Linked DNA regions of Homo sapiens: region 2 is linked to region 1. Evidence: fine-mapped expression QTL. A gene starts in region 1. The other region holds a variant in brackets. All regions are shown on one strand. Distances are from middle to middle.

What was found. PIP is the estimated chance that this variant, and not a neighbour inherited with it, causes the effect. A credible set is the group of variants that fine-mapping cannot tell apart.
Region 2: its variant is the best candidate, but not a certain one, in a credible set for the expression of PLK2 in monocytes (Quach 2016, PIP 0.79).

Annotation. Positions count from the first base shown.
Region 1 is chr5:58,457,411-58,461,801 of GRCh38, reverse strand. PLK2 (polo like kinase 2) reads left to right here and starts at 1,716. Exons shown (of 14, transcript NM_006622.4): 1 at 1,716-2,112; 2 at 2,710-2,817; 3 at 2,961-3,077; 4 at 3,274-3,403; 5 at 3,631-3,718; 6 at 4,219-4,314. The coding sequence starts at 1,843. RefSeq lists silencers at 1,219-1,398, 3,426-3,720 and an enhancer at 4,372-4,391.
Region 2 is chr5:58,479,513-58,483,903 of GRCh38, reverse strand. No RefSeq gene overlaps it. Among named protein-coding and RNA genes, the nearest start is that of GAPT, 9.7 kb to the left of the region's middle. The variant C/T (reference allele first, on the strand shown) is at 2,095.

The DNA of each region.
Region 1 (4,391 bases):
GATAATTATTTTGAGAACCAGCAGACCCAGGAAATGCTCTAAAAATGGCATATTACCCTTTCGTAAGGGAAACGTACATTCACTAAAAAAAAAAACAACAAAAACAAAAAACAAAAAAACCCCACAAAACTCCATTTGTAAAAGTGTCTCCTCTGTACCAGGAAGAATGACTCTAAATCATGAAAAACTTATCAATGAAGAAATAAGAAACCCCACTCCTGTTTACCGTACATTTCCTGGTCATGATTCCTTAACTTGCCTGCCCCACTCTTTTCTTTTGGTTTAGCTAAAGATAGTATTTAAGCCCGATTTTAAACCATCTCTAATTTTCCTGGTTATCTCCCATGTATATATGAGACGTATATGTTAATAAGCTTCTTTGTTTTCTTGTTAATCTGTCTGGTTACAGCGACCCAGGCCAAAACTTTGAAAGGTGGAAAATTATTTTTCCTTCCTTACAATATTTCTCTCAGAATTGTTGTAGGATGAAATAAGGCATTTAAAAATACTGCACAGTCCTCAATAAATGTTACTCTATCGTAATTAGAACAAGAAAAACAAACAAAAAAACGTGTTCCTAGATTAGTCAAACTGCACAGCAAAATCTGGAAATGGGAAACTAAGCTGTGTTTGCACTCACTGGCCTACGCTCCTCTCTTCATCCTACCAATCTCCCTACCCCAGAAAGTCTCAGATTGACTCTCCAGGAACCAGGGCAGCTCATGAGCCATCTCAACAGATGCATTCGGAAGAAGTCATAGATGACTCTGATTGGAAACTCACAATCGGCATCGATGTTTAGTACTAGTAACTGTCAAAGGCCCACGGTTGTCAACCGCTGCCCACTTCGACACCTAACGGCATTCCGGAACATTCCACAAGATGGCGCCCTTGCTTTCCAATCTTCGGGCTACGGGCGGAGGACGCCTTGCCAGGACGCCGACCTCGCTCTGCAAGGTTCAGGGGCCGACCTCAGACAGAGGCTCGCTCTAGGGGCATGGGCGGGGGCCAGACGGGCCTCGAGTGGGATCCTGGCACGGTTGGCCGATCGGCCCGGGATCCCGGCTGCGGGCCCGTGTCTGCCCTAGCGCGATGGGCTCGAATGCCCGGCTCCACGAATCCCGGCCTTTCACCCCCACGGCCTCTCGGCACTGCCCCAGCTAGACACCAGCGAGCTCGTCACAGCGCGGGCAGGCACTGCGGGGCAGCTGCAGACGAGCCCTGTCATACGGCCGGAGGAGGCCTCGCCTGCCCGTGCGGCGGGCTCCGGGCACCCTGATACCTTGACACAGGAGGCCCCGGGCGGCCGGGAAGGGCTGTGCGGGGGAGGGACTGCGTCTACACCCGCGCCCGACTCGCTCGGGTCACGGCACTGCCCTGCCACCAGGCGGCTGGGGCGGGGGTGAGGCCAGGCGTCGGCCCTCGCGATTCTGTTTTGTACGCTGAGGCTCGGAGCCTTCGAAGAACGGGACAGCGGGGCCCACGGACGGCTCTGAAGGCCTTCCCGCGGCCGCAAGAGATCTCGGCGGCCGGCGTTTGAGGCGCGCGGCTCCGCTGGGAAGCGAGACCCGGGTGGCGGGACAAGACTTGCTTCCCGGCCACGCGCGCTCGGCCGGCCGTGGGGCGGGGCATAGGCCGTGACGTGATGTCGCGTATCGAGTCTCCGCCCCCTTCCCGCCTCCCCGTATATAAGACTTCGCCGAGCGCTCTCACTCGCACAAGTGGACCGGGGTGTTGGGTGCTAGTCGGCACCAGAGGCAAGGGTGCGAGGACCACGGCCGGCTCGGACGTGTGACCGCGCCTAGGGGGTGGCAGCGGGCAGTGCGGGGCGGCAAGGCGACCATGGAGCTTTTGCGGACTATCACCTACCAGCCAGCCGCCAGCACCAAAATGTGCGAGCAGGCGCTGGGCAAGGGTTGCGGAGCGGACTCGAAGAAGAAGCGGCCGCCGCAGCCCCCCGAGGAATCGCAGCCACCTCAGTCCCAGGCGCAAGTGCCCCCGGCGGCCCCTCACCACCATCACCACCATTCGCACTCGGGGCCGGAGATCTCGCGGATTATCGTCGACCCCACGACTGGGAAGCGCTACTGCCGGGGCAAAGTGCTGGGAAAGGTGACAAGCGGAGGGCGCCGGGCTGCCGGGCGGGCGGGAGGTCTGTCCGGGCGACCCCAAGCCGGGCAAGCCCGCGGGGTCCCTCGCCCGCCGCTTCCGGGTTTTTCGGGGGTCCGATCCCAGCGCGAGGTGGGCTCCTCACCTGCCCTCTGGCTTTTGTGCGCCGGCAGCGCTGGGGATCGGCTTTGCATTCTTAGCCTCAGAACTGTGTGTCTCCCGCAGCCCAGAGAAATGCATCTTGAGTCTGGAAGCGAGGGCTTTCTACATCAGACCTCTCTCCCTCTATCTGCTCCCAGGGAATTTTCCTGACAAGTCTCATCAGAGATTATTTTTCATGTCTCCCCGTTCCAACTCCCTCCATAAAGCTCCCCTTTATAAAAGAAGAAGAGAAACTGTTTGAACTTGCTGTTTCCAGCAATGCATTTCTCTTCATGAGGGAGCTTTAACGAAGTCGAATGCCTCCCTCTGTCCACCCTCCTCCATTCCTCAATTTTTTTTTTTTTGCTTTTCTTTCTTCCCATTTATTTATTTATTTAAAATATCTGCCGTCCATTTTTGTGCCATCCTCAATTCCGTCTCGGCTTTGTTTCCTTTCAGGGTGGCTTTGCAAAATGTTACGAGATGACAGATTTGACAAATAACAAAGTCTACGCCGCAAAAATTATTCCTCACAGCAGAGTAGCTAAACCTCATCAAAGGGAAAAGGTGCGTATGACTCTTGAGTAAAGTATTTTCTTTGTGTGCAAGGATGGCCCTTCCCTGTTAGGAAAATGTCTTCTGCATGTGTAATCACTGGCTTTTCCGAGGTGACTGGAAGCTAATAAGCCTTACCTTGCTTTTTCATTTAGATTGACAAAGAAATAGAGCTTCACAGAATTCTTCATCATAAGCATGTAGTGCAGTTTTACCACTACTTCGAGGACAAAGAAAACATTTACATTCTCTTGGAATACTGCAGTAGAAGGGTAAGTGTCAACTCCTATTTGAGAACATTTGCTTACCCCGAATTAACATGGTATTCAAAGAGTATTTTATCTGGGATTTTAGCTGTGGCAGCACTTACACTGCAAAGTTAACTTTCATTGCTCATCCTGCAAAGGGAAACCAGTGATTTTGATAACTGTTTTGACAGATTCTCTTTTTTCCTTCTCCTCTTCTTAGTCAATGGCTCATATTTTGAAAGCAAGAAAGGTGTTGACAGAGCCAGAAGTTCGATACTACCTCAGGCAGATTGTGTCTGGACTGAAATACCTTCATGAACAAGAAATCTTGCACAGAGATCTCAAACTAGGTAAGTCATTGACGCCAAAAGCTGAGTTTTGTGTTAGAGTTCTTTTTTCTCTCTCTGTTTTTTTTTACATATTAATGTTCTTAATTGGGATCTCGTGTCTGCAATCTTGCTTTTGAATGGGCGACTTTCATATAACAATTGGCTGCCTGGCTCCAAAGTGGATGTGTGTGTACTTGGTTAGAACGCATTTTCAAAGGGATTCACATTTTGTTTTGTTTATCGTCTAGGGAACTTTTTTATTAATGAAGCCATGGAACTAAAAGTTGGGGACTTCGGTCTGGCAGCCAGGCTAGAACCCTTGGAACACAGAAGGAGGTAAGAGTCAGAAAGATGCATCCTAGTAGACTTTTGTGGAGACCAAATATGCCTTCATTATTTTGCATTTAATGTTTCAGAGGTCCGGTAATAAAATCTATAAATCATAGCAATGTTAATTTAAAGAAATACTTATTAAATGCCCACTATGGACTAGACAGAGCACCCTGTGCCTCTAAATTGATTATGAAAGCAGTCAATGAAGTCTTTTCTTGGCTTAAAATGTATAAAATGCCACGACGTCCCTGGCTTTAGTTGGTTAACAACACTTTGCATGTGGGCTAAAACAACGTGTGTGCATTTTTAAAAATTACCAAAACTCATTTGGTCAGATCTCAATTGAATTTTCAGATGCCAAAAGTCAAATGTTTCCAAATAGAAATTCAGTATAGATTTTAAGATTTTGTTTAAGATTTTGTCTCCCATCAAGTCATGTCAAGAGAACCAAGTTTAAGTAGTGGAATAGTTCCTAACACGATCTCAATATTTTGTCTTTCCAGAACGATATGTGGTACCCCAAATTATCTCTCTCCTGAAGTCCTCAACAAACAAGGACATGGCTGTGAATCAGACATTTGGGCCCTGGGCTGTGTAATGTAAGTAAATGCAGCAGAATAATTAAAAAGCAAATTCGGATTTAGATTTTAACACTTGAAAAGAGTTGCTTTATGAC
Region 2 (4,391 bases), 22 kb before region 1:
TTTTTACTTTGTTTATCTAAATTCCTGTAAAGAAGTCCCAGATTAAAATCTGCTTTATTCCAAAGGGGATAAAGTCAAATTCCTATTTATTTCACACCATCCAATCTGAGCTAAAGACAGTGCCCTGACTGTGGAATATTGACGGACTAGAGCAGGGCTCTTGCCCACGTTTTAAGAAAGTATGAGAGGTTTTAATAAGTAATTGAGGAGACATAAAAATGAGAGGCTGAGCTGTAAGATCATGAAGCTCGTGATTAGAATTTTTTTTCTCTACAGTTCACAGTTGGGGAGTGACATGCTCAAAACCGGGCTTAAGTATGGCCACTCTTGCTACTATTATGCAGAATCATGGAAACGACCTCATGTTTACCTTTGACTGGACTTAGCAAGCTGCTGCAAGTAGAGGCGGCCCATGTCTCTGCATACGCAAGGACATGTCTGTACCTCACATCACACCATCTCTTGCCTGCACAACTGCAATAGCCTCTTCCTGCTCTTCTTACACTGGCGATGCTACAATACCTCATCCTTCGGCTGGCAGAGCGATATTTCCCAAATTATAAATCAGATCACATCAGCCCCCCTGCATAAGACCCTTTACTGGCTACTCATACTCTTAGAATTAAACCCCAACCCCTAATACAGGCTATAAGGCTCTCCATGCTCTGGCGGCTGCCTGTTGCTATTATTTCCTCCTGTGTCCTCCCCAGGTCACTAGCCTCCAGTGACCCTTGTTTTCTCTGCACCTCCTGTGCGCCCAGTTCTTTCCTGCCTTAGGCCCTGCACTAGCTATGCCCATTACCATGCTGCTCTTCTCCTAAATCCTCCCATGCCTGCATCCTTCTCACTGAGGCTTCCTCTTCCATATCCCCTCCCCAGCGAGGATTTCCGTGACCTGCCCAGTTTGAAGTGCACCCCAACAGATGCTGTCACTCACTATCAACCCATACACACTGTCATGGTCACCCACACACAGACTGTCACTCACTCTCAACTCTACATACATTATCATTCCTACACATGCTCTCATTGTTATCACTACACATGCTGTCACTCCATCTCACCTTCACACACATGCCCTCACTGACACCCCTACACAGGCTGCCCCCCTCTGTCACCACTATACATGCTGTCATTCACTGTCAAACCTACACATGCTGTCCCTCCCTGTCACCCCTACACTTGGTGTCACTCACTATCATTCCTACACAGGCTGTTCCTCACTGTCACCCTTATACAGGCTGTCCCTCACTGTCACCTCACATATGCTGTCCCTGTCATCTCTATACATGCTGTCCCTCACTGTCACCCCTACACATGCTGTCATTCACTGTCACGCCTACACAGGCTGCCCCTCTCTGTCACCCCTACCTAAGCTGCCCCTCACTGTCACCTCTACACATGCCATTATTCCCTGTCATCCCTAAACATACTGTCCCTCATTGTCACCCCTACACATGCTGCCCCTTATCATCACCCCTAAACATACTGTCCCTCACTGTCACCCCTACACATGCTGTCATTCACTGTCACTTCTACATGTTTTCACTCACTGTCACCCCTACACATGCTGCCCTGCACTGTCACCCCTACACATGCTGTCATTCACTGTCACTCCTACATGTTTTCACTCACTGTCACCCCTACACATGCTGCCCTGCACTGTCACCCCTACACATGCTGTCATTCACTGTCACTCCTACACGTTTTTGCTCACTGTCACCGCTACACATGCTGTCACTTGCTATCACCCTAACACATGCTGGTCGTCACTGTCACCCTTATACACGCTGTCCCTCACTGTCATCCCACATATGCTGTCATTCACTGTCACTCCTACACATTTTCACTGACTGTTGCCCCTACACATGCTGTCCCTCACTGTCACCCCTACACATGCTGTCATTCATGGTCACTCCTACATATGCTGTCCCTCACCGTCACCCCATACATGCTGTCATTCGCTGTCACTCCTACACATGCTATCACTCACTGTCACCCCTACACATGCTGCCCCCTCTGTCACCCCTGTATAAGCTGCCCCTCACTGTCACCTCTACACATGCTGTCACTCCCTGTCACCCAACATACTGT[C/T]CCTCACTGTTACCCCTATAGAGTCTGCCCCTCACTGTTACCCCTACGCATGCTGTCACTTCCTGTCACCCCTACACATGCTGCCCCTCACTGTTACCCCTACGCATGCTGTCACTTCCTGTCACCCCTACACAGGCTGCCCCTCACTGTCACCCCTTCACATGCTGTCCCTCATTATCATCCCTATGCATGCTGCCCCTCACTGTCACCTCTAATCATACTATCCCTCATTGTCACCCCTACACATGCTGTCACTCACTGTCACCCCTATACATGCTGTCCTTCACTGTCACCTCTACACAGGCTGTCACTCACTGTCACCCCTACACATGCTGTCCTTCACTGTCACCCCTACACATGCTGCCCCTCACTGTCACCCCTACACATGCTGTCACTCCTACACACATTATCACTTGCTGTCACTCCTGCACATTCTCTCATGCACTGTCAGTTGTACACACATTGTCTCTCACTGTCACCCCTATACACATTGTCACTGACTGTCACCCATACACATGCTCTTACTCACTGTCACCCTACATATACTGTCATTCACTGTCATACCTACACACACTCTCACTGTCACCCCTACACAAATTGTCTCTCACTGTCACCCCATATATATTGTCACACATGGCCACCTTACACACACTGTCACTCCCTGTCACAGCTACACATGCTCTGTCACCACTACACACATTGCCACTCACTGTTACCTCTACACACACTCACTCACTGTCACCTCTAAACATACTGCCACTCACTGTCACCCCTACACATACTCTCACTTCATGCCTATGCCGATTATCATAGTTAGCCCTACACACAAACACGTCACCCCTACACACATTGTCGCTCTCATCTCCGCACATGCTCTCACTGTCACCCTGCACATGCTGGCACTCCCTGTTACCCCACACACACTGATGCTCACTTTCATACCAACTTGTTCCATTTTTATAATAGCTTGTAGCACTATCTAATACTTTGATATTTTGTGTTACTCTTATCCCTCCTAAACTTAGTGCTAAGTTCATGAGAAGATGGGTTATGTCTTTTTTGTTCACTGCTGTCTGATTTATCAGGGTCTGTCATATCATGTAAAAGGGGTTCAATAAATGTTGCTTATTAATAAATGAAAAAATAGGGATTATTCTTGGAGAGTAATCTTGGGCTAAAATAATAGACTTTATGGTGCTAAACATAAATACACATCACACAGCATATGCAGCACTTGTATGTGTATTATATATATACACACAAATATTTACACACATACAAATGTACCTATATAGTTTAGAGAATAACAAATAAGTACACTCAGGTAAAGAAATTGAAAAATCACCACTACTTTGGAAACCCCAATTTGCCCCACCCTATGATGTTCTCATCTTTCGTCTCCAGAGTAACCATCATCTTGGTTTCTTTTTGTTCATCATCCTTGTTCTTTTTAAGAATTTGATCATCTAAGTGTGTGCCTGTAAATTGTTTTGGAAAACTAGAGGGCAAGTGCAGGCTTGGATAGTGTAGAAATGGCAAGATCCCCACTCTTTGATGAGGCTCTCAGGAGAAGTGAATCCACACTGAGCTTTGAGACCAGCTTGTTGAGAAATTACAAAGCCCATTCAGGGGGGCTCCGAGGTCAGCAGAACAGGTGTGGAAAGTGCCATGAGAAATGCACAGCTTGTCAGGAAGCTGGCAGGGCTGTAGTGTGGACCAGACACTGGATGGCTGATGGAGACAAGGTCAGAGCCAGGGGTTGTTTCGTATTTTCTGCTTCTAAGTATGGCCTTTAGGCTTGGTCAAAAAAGAACATTTCTGTGGAATAAAAAGGGCTTTCAGCTGATTCAGGCAGCAGAATGTCAAGACAAGACAATTGTAGGCAAGTATAGGGGCCAGGGTCACTGGGACCTCAGGTTTAAAAAGGGTGCAAAGTTGGCTGGGTGCAGTGGCTCACTCCTGTAATCCCAGCACTTTCAGAGGCCGAGGCAGGTGGATCACTTGAGGTCAGAAGTTCAAGACCAGTCTGGCTAACATGGTGAAATCCCATTTCTACTAAAAATACAAAAAATTAGCTGGGCGTGGTGGCACACACCTGTAATCCCAGGTATTTGGGAGGCTGAGGTAAGAGAATAGCTTGAACCTGGGAAGCGGAGGTTGCAGTGAGCGGAGATGGTGCCATTGCACTCCAGCTTGGGCAACAAAAGCAAAACTCCATCTAAAAAAAAAGGTGCAAAGTTAGCTGGAATAGGGTGCATTATTTCCAACAAAAACTCTCTGATACCCTTTGCTTTGAT